Linked DNA regions of Homo sapiens. The protein of the gene in region 3 purifies or fractionates together with the protein of the main gene of each other region. This does not show direct contact. Each region holds a gene or a part of one and is shown on either strand. Other genes may lie near its edges.

The links. The genes of interacting proteins can lie anywhere in the genome.
Region 1: the proteins of RFTN2 (region 3) and CCDC88A purify together in Homo sapiens (affinity purification with mass spectrometry; 2 studies listed by BioGRID and IntAct, with this or other methods). This does not show direct contact.
Region 2: the proteins of RFTN2 (region 3) and NMT2 purify together in Homo sapiens (affinity purification with mass spectrometry; one large-scale study listed by BioGRID and IntAct). This does not show direct contact.
Region 4: the proteins of RFTN2 (region 3) and POMT2 purify together in Homo sapiens (affinity purification with mass spectrometry; 2 studies listed by BioGRID and IntAct, with this or other methods). This does not show direct contact.

The regions. Positions count from the first base shown.
Region 1 is NC_000002.12:55,294,357-55,297,856, reverse strand, and holds part of CCDC88A (girdin), read left to right. Parts: intron 1-1,333; coding exon 1,334-1,599; intron 1,600-1,800; coding exon 1,801-2,260; intron 2,261-3,500. UniProt on the Homo sapiens protein: Bifunctional modulator of guanine nucleotide-binding proteins (G proteins). Acts as a non-receptor guanine nucleotide exchange factor which binds to and activates guanine nucleotide-binding protein G(i) alpha subunits.
Region 2 is NC_000010.11:15,134,194-15,137,693, forward strand, and holds part of NMT2 (glycylpeptide N-tetradecanoyltransferase 2), read right to left. Parts: exon of another isoform or gene 1,226-3,500; coding exon 1,081-1,225; intron 1-1,080.
Region 3 is NC_000002.12:197,669,088-197,672,587, forward strand, and holds part of RFTN2 (raftlin-2), read right to left. Parts: intron 1-3,500. UniProt on the Homo sapiens protein: Upon bacterial lipopolysaccharide stimulation, mediates clathrin-dependent internalization of TLR4 in dendritic cells, resulting in activation of TICAM1-mediated signaling and subsequent IFNB1 production.
Region 4 is NC_000014.9:77,286,384-77,289,883, forward strand, and holds part of POMT2 (protein O-mannosyl-transferase 2), read right to left. Parts: intron 2,449-3,500; coding exon 2,379-2,448; intron 889-2,378; coding exon of another isoform or gene 850-888; intron 440-849; coding exon 361-439; intron 1-360. UniProt on the Homo sapiens protein: Transfers mannosyl residues to the hydroxyl group of serine or threonine residues. Coexpression of both POMT1 and POMT2 is necessary for enzyme activity, expression of either POMT1 or POMT2 alone is insufficient.

The sequences.
Region 1 (3,500 bases), about 140 Mb from region 3:
TTAAAGTTATCCATGCAGGATGAACAGAGAAGCCTTCAAGTAGTAATGAGGACTTCTTAGATAAGCAAATAATTAAAATAGAATTTTCTGCATTTAGAACAGTTTTTGGTCTTAACATACTGAAATAATATAAAATTCACCTAATGAGCCAGGTGCGGTGGCTCACACCTGTAATCCCAGCACTTTGTGAGGCCGAGGTGGGCAGATCACCTGAGGTCAGGAGTTACAGACCAACCTGGCCAACATGGTGAAGCCCCGTCTCTACTAAAAGTACAAAAATTAGCCTGGCATGGGGGCGCATGCCTGTAATCCCAGCTACTTGGGAGGCAGAGGCAAGAGAATCACTTGAACCCAGGAGGCGGGGGTTGTAGTGAGCTGAGATCGTGCCACTGCATTCCAGCCTGGGTGACACAGTGAGACCCCATCTCAAAAAAAAAAAATACACACATATGTATATTTATATATAATATATATTTATATATAATATATATTATATATATTTATATATAATATATAAATTTATATATTATATATTATATATTTATATATAATTATATATAAATTATATATATTATATATAATATATATAAAAATACACATTAGATGAAATATATATATATATTTTGTCTAATCATGTTCTTATCCTAAATTGTGAGGCATTTTATTTTATTTATTTTTATTGTTGAGACAGAGTCTCAGGCCAGAGTGCAGTGGCGCGATCTCTGCTCACTGCAACCTCCACCCCCCCAGTATCAAGCAATTCTCCTGCCTCAGCCTCCTGAGTAGCTGGGACTACAGGCGTGCACCAGCACGCCTGGCAAATTTTTTGTATTTTTAGTAGAGACGGGGTTTCTCCATATTGGCCACGCTGGTCTCCAACTCCTGACCTCGTGATCCGCCTGCTTCGGCCTTCCAAAGTGTTGGGATTACAGGCGTGAGCCACCACGCCTGGCCTGCAAGGCATTTTATAACTATTTGAACCTGAATTTTAAAAAATATATTATTCACTTATTTATTCATTCATTTACTCAAAAAATATATTGAATGCTTTGTATGAGGCTCTGTTTAGGCTCTGAGTATGATAGTAAAAGCAAGTCTTTGCCCTTATGGAGCTTACAATAGTTGTCAGTTTGACAAAATAAGGAAGCAGGCTATGGCAGACAATTGTTAGACTGATAAAAGATTGACATGGTTTACTAAGCATTTCTAAATAAAGCTTGAAAGTAAATTTGGCTGTTCATATAATTAGCACACAGTCAACAAATGTTATTACTCATGAAGTATTAATCTCAATTCTATTATTGAAATCTCAACACCCCATTTACTCCAAAAGCAGGTGCAGTTAATAACCAAAGCAGGCCACAAAGCCACAGCAGTGGAGAATTTAGCCTGCTTCATGACCATGAGGCTTGGTCCAGCAGTGGTAGCAGTCCAATCCAGTACTTGAAAAGACAGACCAGATCAAGCCCAGTGCTCCAGCACAAAATATCTGAAACACTGGAGAGTCGACATCACAAGATCAAAACTGGTTCCCCTGGAAGTGAAGTTGTTACTCTACAACAGTTTTTGGAAGAAAGCAATAAGCTTACCTCAGTACAGGTTAGTTTTATCTATGATGACCTTAATTTAGATGAACACCACAAGTTAAATTTCTGTAATTGAACTTCAGAGCTTTTTTTTTTTGGTAAGTTAAGGAGTATTAAGAGGTACCACAATTTTATATTGCACAGTCTGCTAAATCAGGAAAGTAAAAACATGGCACTATATTCACTAATCTGCTTTGAATTTTTTTTTAAACAGATAAAGTCCTCAAGTCAAGAGAATCTTTTAGATGAAGTAATGAAAAGTTTGTCTGTCTCTTCTGACTTTTTGGGAAAAGACAAACCAGTTAGCTGTGGTCTGGCCAGGTCAGTAAGTGGAAAAACCCCAGGGGACTTCTATGATAGACGGACAACTAAGCCTGAGTTTTTGAGACCTGGTCCTCGAAAAACTGAAGATACCTACTTCATTAGTTCTGCGGGAAAACCTACACCAGGCACTCAAGGAAAAATAAAATTAGTAAAAGAATCTTCTCTGTCACGACAATCAAAAGATAGTAACCCTTATGCAACTTTACCTCGTGCAAGCAGCGTGATCTCAACTGCCGAAGGAACTACACGAAGGACAAGCATCCATGATTTTTTGACCAAGGACAGTAGACTGCCTATATCAGTTGATTCACCACCAGCTGCTGCTGACAGCAACACCACTGCAGCATCTAGTGAGTACCATTTACACCAGTGGTCCTCTCATATACTTGACATCCCAACACATACTATAGGTTCTTGTGCCCAAAATGATTTAGCTATAGACATGCCTGAGCCTCTATATGCCCAGGCTAGAAACTCAAGAACAGGAAGGTCACATTTTCTAAACCAAACTTTTGCCACTATTAGGATGCCTAGTGATGCATTCGGAATGTTGGCAAAAGATAGCATAGGACCATTTACTGTGGCCCATTCATCTCAGCCATTCTTATCCCTGAATACAGAATTAGTTAGTAACATAAGTGGGTTACCTCCTAGGCCAGTTATCAGAATAACTGACCAGGCTTCTGCCTCTTTGGATAAACCTGCACAGAAAGAAAATGAACAGTTTTCTGATCATCAGAACCCTAGTAACAGTAACCTACAGTTTTCTATAAATAGCAACAATCTTGTCACTTCTGCATGCCTCTATCCTGATGACACAGAAGCTGCATTGTTGGTTTCTGAGGATAATCAAACTGTTTGGTATGAATATGGTTGTATATGATCAAAACTGCACAATATAATATATTGATGTTATTTGATATACACTGCTTCTCTAATATGATTTGAAAAGTTGCTGTTAACAAAATATCATTTGGCTAGGTTTTTATTTTTTATTTAAAATTGTTGCACAGTGTTCAGCTGTACATGATGGCATGTATATTAATGTGAATGTGTAACCACACCAAAACCTGCATGAAATATTAATTACTTTGTCCATTTTCTGCATGCCTTTAAAAACCTTAACCATACATGCTCCTCCTTCACATTTTTTGTTGCCTGATAAGATTGTTACTTTGATATCCAGAAGCATGTTAAAACAGTTGCATGCTCTCTTACCAAGAAGACATTTCCAAGTCATATTTGCTTTGTTGCTTCTGGAAAAAAATGTTCATTTCCTCCCTCCCTTCCTCCTCTTCCCACCCCTCACTTGCTCTGACTGTCACTCCTTTTTTTCTTCCAGAATGTGTACTTTATATTACATATGTACAGTATCAGTAGGGAAAATGTAAAAAGATGTTGTTTTCTTTTGTCATTTAATTAGGCCATCTGTCCTGTTTTAAAGAAATAGTTAATAATTCAACACTTTATATAACAAATATTAACTAATACCCATATTTATAAAACATTTTTCAGATTTAAAAGATTGTTAATACTTATAAACTTAGTGTTATTCTTAGAAAACCCCATCAAATTTAAATGTGATTTACA
Region 2 (3,500 bases), on a different chromosome or scaffold from region 3:
CTAGTGATTTCCACCAAGAAGAGTTTTCCAAGTCCTTCTCTGCAGAGCTTCCCAACATGGTAGGACTAAAACCCAGGCTCTTCCCCATGGCTGCTGCCTGCCTCGGCCCCTCTCCACACCCTCCCTGCCCCCTGCTCCCAGTGCTCTGGCCATGATGACCGGGGCAGGCCTCAGCTCAGGGCCTTCCTGGTGCCTTCCTTAGGCTTGAGGCCCTCTGGTCCTCAAGGGACGGGCCCCTTGGAATTCCCGACAGAAGCTTACGCATCACACGTCACTTTCTCCCAGCATCTGTTGCTTAACTAAAGCCTTTCTCTACCTCAGTGTGGCCGCTCCTCCCCAGCCTGGCCACCTTTTGTCCTACTTTTCCACCACTGTTTCCAGGTGTGTGCCCTGGACTATGCCTGGCATTTAATAACAGACACTCAACAGACACCTGCTCCATGAGGGACCTTCAGGGCCTGGTCCTTCCATCACAGAACCTTATATACATTTTTAATACTCTAATGGGCTAGGTGCGGTGGCTCACACCTGTAACCCAGCACTTTGGGAGGCCAAGGCAGGTGGATCACTTGAGCCCAGGAGTTCGAGACCAGCCCAAGCAACATACTGAAACAGCGTCTTTACAAAAAAATACAAAAATTAGCCAGGTGTGGTGGTGTGCACTTGTGGTCCCAGATACATGGGAGGCTGACATGGGAGGATGGATCACTTGAGCCCAGGAGGTGGAGGCTGCAGTGAGCTATGATCATGCCACTGCACTCCAGCCTGGGTGATAGAGTGAGACCCTATCTCAAAAATAATAATAATACTAGTAATGTTTCAAGTGTGGGGAAATTGGATGTTTTTATTGGGATAGAAATTGGACTAAAATAATGGTTATCAAAAGCCAATGTCACTATCTAATATTTATATTTTCAGAAGAAAAATATTAGTCTTGCATAGATTTCCAATCTGTGGTATGAAATAAATGATACATGTGAAGTTAACACTCTTTGTGTTTTGTTGTTGTTGTTGTTGTTGTTGTTGTTGTTCATCCAGCTTTGTTTGTGGGGAAAAAAAGAGAAAAGCAGAAAAACTTACCTAGTTTTGGTACCGGTTGTGTGTCCCAAAACTGGTATCTGTGCTTTGCAGCCTCATCAATGTTCCTGGCTGGGCCCTGGCATGCGGATAGCAGCTCCATTGCTCTCTGGATATCCTGCAACTTCTGCATTGGAACACTGGGATTCTACGACAGCAAAGACAGACACAGAATATGAGAGAGCGGCTGCTGATGTTAAACTTGAGCAGACGCACGTGCATCTGCCTCAGAGACTACAATACCTAAACACTAACAATCCTCCTCCAAGCCCAGTCAAGGCCATGGGCTTGTGTGTTACACATGAAAATAGAAGCAAACCCTCTGTTAAAGGTAACAACAGTTGTCTAGTTTTATTGGGGCTCTGGCAGTTTGGGGAATCTAAATTGAAGCACGCTTTGCTTCAGTTTCCCATCCATCTACAAATGGTCCCCGGCATTACTCCTCTGGGGGAGACGTGCAGTGCATGCATTACTGTCATCCAACAGCCAGGCAGCCACGAGCCTTGGGTGGGGGGCACTGTCAGAGTAAATGCTCTGCAGGAGCAACGAGGGGATGAAGGAAAGAACTTCTAGAATGGAAACACAGCAGAGAAGGGAAGGGAAGGGGAGGGGAGGGAAAGAAGAGAGAGAGAGAAAACAAAGAAAGAGAAAGAGAGAGAGAAAGAAAGAGAGAGGATCGGCAGTGGTGTCTCACGCCTATAATCCCAGCACTTTGGGAGGCCGAGGTGGGCAGATCACGTGAGGTCAGGAGTTAAGAGACCAGCCTGGCCAACACGGTGAAACCTTGTCTTTACAACAATACAAAAATTAGCCAGGCATGATGGCAGGTAATCCCAGCTACTCGGGAGGCTGAGGAGGGAGAATCGCTTGAACCTGGGAGGTGGAGGTTGCAGTGAGCTGAGATCGCGCCATTGCACTCCAGCCTGGGTGACAAGAGCAAGACTCTGTCAGGAAAGGGAAAGGGAAAGGGAAAGGAAGGGAAGGGAAGGGAAAGGGAAGGGAAGGGAAGGGAAAGGAGGGAGAGAGAGAGAAGGAGAGAGAAAGAGAAAGGGAGAGAGACAGAGAGAAAGAAAAGAAAAGAAAAAAGGAGGGAGGGAGCGAGGGAGGAAGGAAGGAAGGAAGGTAGGGGGGAGAGACAGAGAGGGAGAGGGAGGAAGGAGGAAGGAGAGGGACAGGGGGAGGAGGGAGGGAGAGAGGGAGGAAAGGAGGAAGGAAGGACAGATGGAAGGAAGGAAGGAAGGAAGGGAAATCTGAACTCAGTGCTGAACTGGGATGAAAATGATCAAGAAAAGAAATCTCTAACCATGCCCCTTCCTCCCGGCCACACCCTGCCCTTCTCCTGACCCTCCTGATCCTCCTGATCCTCTAGAGACAAACTCTCCCACCAGAAGGACAAGCAATTTCCTCTGTACTTCAGATCCTGGGCAACCATAGCCTGTCGTTCCCAGCCCAAGTGTTGGAAACTGGACTCCTTTTTAGGTAAAACATTACGTTTGAATTCTAAGGTTCCTTTCTCAAAGCCAATATTCCCGCCAGCTCTTGGAGATTCCCCAGTTCTTTTTTTTTTTTTTTTAATTCCTCAAATAACGTAATAATACATGGAACATGAGACTACTTGAAATGAGAAGACAGCGCAGAGGACTGAATATGGAAATCAATGACTTTTTTCAATATGTAAAATTACTGAGACATTGTAGAACTTTGATACCATGCAAAGAATATTCTTCGCTGTAATTCAGAAAGTGGTTAGAAGTTTCAAGAGCCCTTCGGTTTTGCTGTATGTCAACACAGGGTGGACACCATTGAAAGGTACAATCGACCCTTAGAAGTTTATAAACAGCAACTTTGGACTTCTGTTCCACTTGGAATCTGAAATCTGTGGTGTGGAGCAATAATTTTAACTTGGGAAGCTTACTCATCGTACACAGCACAGAACAGGGTTTGTTTCATACAAACACTGTCAAGAACCCTAAGGAAACGAAGTTCTGAAGTCCAGCTGGAGGCAGGTGAAAGTCTTTTTGTCTCTGCTTGGAAGTCTCACAGCACAATCCAAGATGGCCACAGTTTTTGTAAGCTGTTTATCTTACATTTGTTTAACATCAAAATCATAAAGGTCCTATCTTAATGACACATACAAATTTAACAAAATACTTTTCCGGTTCTCATTATTATATCTTTGGATGACTTCTTTTCCTTGGGTGTCTTTTAAGTCCCCAACATTAAAAGGAGCAAATTTCTAGCAAAATGAAATTCATGTGTATCTGAACTCCAACAACACCATCTATTAGAAGACCTTACAATTTAAATAGGAATTGAGATCACAGCATATTTCAACTAATAATGCTTAACTGTGCATCAGTTTAGCTTAAAATGGCAAAGTAGAGCCCAGTCTTATAAAAATAGAACTACAATGACTATAATGA
Region 3 (3,500 bases):
GTGATTATCTACTCACTGTTTTGGTTCTTCCTAACTGCAGTTTTAAAATACAATAAAATTCTATTGAACTATGTATTTCATGGTTATAGGCAGATATATGAAGGACCAAATTATGACCAAACTCCTGAAGTCTTATGTTTCACTGCTATCTTCTTAATATGCTACATTCCTACCATTCTGTTTTATTTTCAGTTTCCAGACAGACCACAGAGTTTTCTCTCTTCTGAGTATTTGTATATCTTGTCTTTCAGCCATGTTTGCCTTATCCCTACTCACTTCCTATTCAGCCTTTTTTTTTTTCAAATTTTTTTGGGGTTGGGGTGAGTGGAAATGTAACATATAAAAGAAAAAGACACAAAACATGCTTAAAACTACTAACACTAGGACAGCGGTCCCCAACTTTTTGGCACCAGGGACTGGTTTCATTGAAGGCGGTTTTTCTACAGATGTGGGTGGGGAGTGGACGGTTTGAGATGAAACTGTTCCACTTCAGATCATCAGGCATTAGTTAGATTCTCATAAGAAGTTTGCAACCTAGATCCCTTGCACGCGCAGTTCACAATACATGCTCCTATGAGAACCTATGAGAATCCAATGCCGTTGCTAATTAGGCAGTAATGCTCACTGGCCTGCTGCTCACCTCTGGCTGTGTGGCCCTGTTCGTGACAGGCCACAGACCAGTACCAGTCTGCAGCCTGGGGGCTGGGGACCCCTGCACTAGGGTAACCACTATCCATTCAAAAATTAGAAAATAGCCAGCACTTCAGAAGCCTTTACCCTTTCCCATCACAATGCTCCTGTCCCCTCCGTAATACCCTGATTTTTATGATAATGACTTTTTTTTGCCTTTCTTCTTAGTTTACTTCCCAGAATGCAGCCCTAAACACTATACTTCCGTTTGAGCATATAAAGGGAAGCATATAGCATGGACTTGTGTGTCTGTCTTCACTCAATATTATGCTTGTGGAATTCATCTTGTGTAATTGTAGTTCCTCTGTTTCCACTGCAGTGTGCTAAGAGTTGGCGAACTGTGGCCTGTGGTCTGTTTTGTTATATATTGTCTATGGCTGCTTTAGCGCTACAACAGGAGAGTTGAATAGTTGTGACAGAGACCTCATATTTACCATCCAACCCTTTAAGGGTATTTGCTGATTTCTGCAGTATTGTGTGAGTATACCACAATTTATTTTTCCATTCTTTTGTTTTTTGGAGTTCCGGGTTGTTTACACCTTTGGGCTATTACAAACAACACTTCTATGAACATTCTTGTAGTGCCTCATGATGCACATGTACACTCATTTCTGTTGGGTATATCTTTAGCTAAGTAGATAATGCCAAACAATTTTTTCCCTCAATGATTCTAACAGTTTACCCACACTGGTGTTTAAGACCAGTCTGGGCAACATAGCAAGACCTCCATCTCTACAAAAAATTAAAAAATAAGCCAGGCATGGTGGCACATGTGTAGTCCCAGCTACTCCAGCAGCTGAGGCAGGAGGATTGCTTGAGCTTGGGAAGTCATGTCTACAGTGAGCTGTGACTGAGTCACTGCACTTCAGCCTGGGTGACAGAGTGAGACCCTGTCTCAAAAAAAAAATCTATTTCAATTCCTTCTTGAAATTTTCACAGTCAGCTGTGCATCTATAAACTGCCTCTACTAAGATCTTCCACTGCCACCTCAAATGCAACATGACTGCAATGAAATTGCTCTTTGACCACAGACGGACTCCCTTTGGAGTGCCCCTCCTTCTGTAAGAGGACTCATTATTTCCATAGCCACTCAGGCTCAAAACTGGGAAGTCATCCTGGATTCCTCATTCTTTCTGTCCCTTCAAATCCAGCCAGTCACAGGCTAAGTTCCTCCTTTGTAACATCTGTCATATCTACCCCTTGTATCCTATCCCTGTTACTGCCCTTCACCCACAGGTCCTCATCATCATTAGCCTTGACTTCTTGCCTCCATCCCTTCTCACTGCAATTCCACATGAATCTTCTTAAAACACTCTTCTGCATCTATCAACTACTTGTTCAAAAAGCCTTTACTGCCATTTATCTTCCATAGAATTAGGTCTTAACTCCCTGGCTAAGCCAGAACCTTCCCATTTCCCATCAGTTTAGAATCTTACTTCCTGCTTCCTCCCTAGAAAACCTCCTTTAGCTCACTGCTCTGTTCACCAGCCCTTGAACTTACTCCAATCTCTTAATCTTTTTCTGTTTAAGCCACTTTCTTCAAGGGTCAGTTAAAGTCCTAACTCTAGTTCCAACTGATCCTACTCAAAATTGATTTCTCCTTTTTCTGATACTTGTTGTAGCACACTATTTCCTCCACATGTACCTTGTATTGTAATTTTTTGTTCATTCACTCATTCAACAAAGAATATTGACCATCACTCATATTCCAAACATCGTGCTGGACACAGGGTGTACAAAGATGGAGATGATATAATTCCTAACCTTGATGAGTTCATGACCTTGTCCAGTTTGACCGAGTTGAATACAAAATATCCGAGGGCAGAAACTGTCTTATTCTTTTTTATATTTCCAATGCTAATCAGCATTTTTTACAGAGTACAATTCCTGTTAATGGTGATGATGAAAGACAAATAGAATTTCTTGTTCTAATAATAATGAAGCAAGCTAGAGGCTAGCAAAATTTCACTCACATTTTATGTAATTCTACCAGAAATTCAGATAAGGAAGCTACCATCCAATTTTCTGTTGGGTTTTAGTATTGTAGAACCTCTTTTTACTCATAAAGCTATAAATGCTGTAAAAATTCTTAAGGCTACTATTATTCAGATTGTTTCCTGGAATTATACAAGGAGGTAAATTAATCCTTTTGGATCACTTGTAGAGTTATTTTAACTTTTTGTTAAGAAACCCTGTAACATACTCATATACATACATCATATGCTCTCATAAACACATATAAATGGATATACTATAAGAAATCTCTAGACTATTTTGAATTTTCACTAATAAGCAGGAATAATGAATTGTTACTTTATCATAATACAGTGAAAGAAATCATTACTATACAATAATCCAGAAAAATATAAACATTTTACCAAAACCTCATTAGTGCAGTTGGTAGACTTGGCATAAAGTTCCAGAAAAATTCGGCCTACCTAGATGAAACTTTAAATTTCTTGAAAGAAGGGGCTATGTGTTTTATTTCTTTTATAGTACCTAAGATACCCAGCATAGCAGCGCAATCAGGAGCTACTCCAAACACATTTGTCGAGTTGTAGTTGCACAAACTAATAATTTTATGGCCAGAATAAGAAAAATGTGTATGAACCTTTGAAGAGAACATATAAGTAACCAATACTTGATGATTATGTATCAGAGGGGAAATGCAGGAATTATTTTAATGACCTCAATAGGTTGGTCAAAAAGCATCCTGCAGGAGCTGGGTTTAAAGGAGGAATGTGGAGACAGAGGGTATTCTCAGAGGAAGGATCATAACAGTTAATCTTTATCAAGTGCTTACTAACTGC
Region 4 (3,500 bases), on a different chromosome or scaffold from region 3:
TGGCAAAAGATAAACATACATGTTGTTCATCTGGGGTCATATTGTGGGTCCTTGGCTTCTATGTCCAATGTGATTTTAAAAGAGATCCAAATAGTATTCATATTTGACATTTATTAAGTATCAGAGCATGTAAATGGCATGGTTATTATGTGAGGAGAGAGATGGAGACAAACAGACTTCATAGGCTGCTTTTCCCAGAGCAGGCCTAGCCAAAAAGTGCCCAAATGTTAAGAGAGTCCCTGTGCAGCCTCTTATCCTCAGGAACATTCCAGAATTCTGGGGAGGAGATATCCCACCACACAGCCCTGAGCCAAGGCCCATAACTTTTACGTCCTACTCACATCCCCGTTGCTTACTTACTATGCCATAGCCGGTGACCTGATAGTGCTTCCGGGTCATGGGGGCCTCATGATAGTGACTGTGCAAGTTCCGGGAAGTTCTAGAAGTTAGAAAAGAGAAGTGTCATTATCCTATAGAAAGATGATGTGCAACATTTCTTCTTTTACCAAGGATGTTCAGAGTCAACTGTCAGGATAAGAAAAATTAGAATCTGAACTATTAAATCCAACATATCAGGAACTGGTTTCCTATTTACTCACAAGAAATATCCTGAGAACTGGAGAAGAGATGAGCCCAAACCAGGAGAGACAGATGGTAGGAGCACTGGACGGCATGCCAAGAAAGGGGCTAACTTTAGGTGCTGGCAGGGAGGTGGGGGGCGACTTTCACACATTTAGTAGCTTTGAAGCACTTAGCTTGCCTGACTTAGGAGGCAGGTTTGAGGAGAGGAAAAATTAAAACTTGTAATCTGCATGGCCTGAGCTAGGTAACCTCCTCACTGCCACTTACTCTTTCTGCTCCCATCGCCAGATTTTTTTAAGTGGACATCTGTGGAGGATGAGAGGGGTTTAATTTAGCTTTTATTTAGTTTTATATAACAACTCTCACTTTTATCTGGAACAAATAATAAATGTTCATTATAAAATTTCTGAAAATTTGCAAAAGTAAAATTTAATTACAATAAATTTTTATTAATGACAAATGAAATTTATTTAATAAAATAAAAATTTTAAGTATTCAAAATCCAGCTGACTCAAAAAAAAACCATAGCTAATTGCTTCTCTCTCTGTCTCTGTCTCTCTCTCTCTCTCTCTCTCTCTCTATATATATATATATATACCCACACACATACACACCTCTGATTTTTAAAAATTTGTATCCGATAATTCCAGTCTATGAAATGTTTACGGGGCTGCTCCTGCTGTCTGTCGTTTCAGCTTGTTCTTGCACACAGTGCCCTATTTCCTTGTGTGCTTTGTTACTTTTGGGTGTGTACTATTGTCACTAAAAAACTATGGGAACAAATGACAACGACTTTCCCCAAAGAGGGCTTACATTTGCTTTTAGCCATGCACCTAGGAGACACGACCAATCTAGGATCATGTTCATTTAAATTCATGTCTTGGAGATTCTGAGATCACCCAGGCAACATGAATTTGAGCTCCAAGTTCATGTGAGGATCAAATGGTAGTTCCAACTTCTCAGGAACTAAGGACAGTTCACCACCCAACCCCCAACACTTAGCTGGGTCCTAAAGTGGACCTGGGCATAAGTGGATAGGGCAGATTTACCCTTACCCCAAGCCTTTGGGGGTTCCAAATATGGGGAAGGATAACTTAATAAATTTACCACTTTGGGTGAGCCTAGGTTTGACTTTAAAACCTCTTCTCTCAAGAGACAGCCAAAAGTCAAGATTGTGGGATCAAAGCAAAAGTGGCTTCAGTGTCTCACTTATTTCTCTGGATTCCTCATTTCACTTAGGCTTTGGCCTGGTAACTCTTTAATATCTTGTCAGCCTTTTTATGCTCTTAAGAAGTCTTTATATTATTCCAGCATTTTTAGTCATTTTCAGTGAGAACACTGGTTAAATAAGCTAGCTTGCCATATTCTCAGAAACAGACTCCTACGTCTTTCTAAAGGCAGCCACTTAAGAAGAAGCTTTGGGAGCTGGGTGTGATGGCTCATGCCTGTAATAGCAACCATTTGGGAGGCTGAAGCGGGAGGATCGCTTGAGCCCAGGACTCTGAGGCCAGCCTGGGTAACATAGTGAGACTCTGTCTCAAAAAAAAACAGCAGCAGCAGCTTTCAGCAACTCAAATTTTCCTCTAGGAAATGGGAAATTGAAAGGTCCCCAGAAGGCAGGCAAAGGCTGGCCTGCAATTTCATCACCTTCATAAAATGCTTCTCCCATTCTCGCACTGTGGCCTTGCTCCATTGACCAGAGCCTCATCAAAATCTAACTTCTGTTTACTTCTTAAAATAACTCCCTCCCCTTGGTGCCCGTACCATTTATTTATCCAAACTGCAAATTGACTTACTCTTTGTGTTCTAGTCGAATAATGTCTCCATGTCTTACAAACTCCACTGGGAAGGAAGGGTCTAGGGGATCTGCCAAAAAGAAACAAGCATTGATATCCAAAATCACTCACCAGGCTAGTATTAATCAAGGGCCTACTGGTAAACAGTTATAGTACCATGTGGTATCTGCTAGAGGTACTAACCAGGTACTCTGAGACCAAAGAGGAAAGACCCCTAAATTGCTTCAGGGTATTAGAGAAGGGTGTCCCAGAGATAATGCTCGAAAAGACTCTTAAGGGAAAGGGAGAATTTTGTCAGGTGAACAAGCAGGAGAAAGGCACTAGAAGTGTGAAAGAAGAAAACTTCTGGCCGGGCACAGTGGCTCACGCCTGTAATCCTAGCCCTTTGGGAGACCGAGGCGGGCAGAACACCTGAGGCCAGGAATTCGAGACAAGCCTGGCCAACATGGTGAAACCCCATCTCTACTAAAAATACAAATAATAGCCGGGCGTGGTGGTGCACGCCTGTAGTCCCAGCTACTCGAGAGGCTGAGGCAGGAGAATCGCTTGAACCCGGGAGGCGGAGGTTGCAGTAAGCCGAGATTGCGCCACTGCATTCCAGCCTGGGTGACAGAGCAAGACTCTGTCTCCAAAAAAAAAGAAGAAGAAAAACTCCTTCGATGAATAGCAAATGGGTTTCATACTGTAAGGGTGGGTGGGGTGGGGGAGAGTGGGAACAGATGAGGCTATGAACGAGTGTGGCCAGACTGCATATTCCAGGCTGGAATGTGGCCTTTACCCGATGAGGCACTGAAGCCCCCACTGGAGCTTAAGCTGGGAAGCTAAATAGTAAGACTTTAGTAGTAATAACAGCCTTCTAAAAAGTAATTCCATACAAATGACCACTTGCCCAACTCTCCTCAAAATCAAATAAACCCTGACAATCTTGCCAGCGAGTATCTTGTCTCTGGCAATAAACTTGCTAAATGTGAGGTGAATAATGATGAAATGATTAAAGGACTACTTCTGTATCATCTCAAAATCAAGACCAATCAGGATCTAGAAAGGTGATGACATGGAAAAGGAGCTGGCAGTAATCATAGCAACACAGAATGGATCCTTGCAAATTTCTGTCCCAAACAG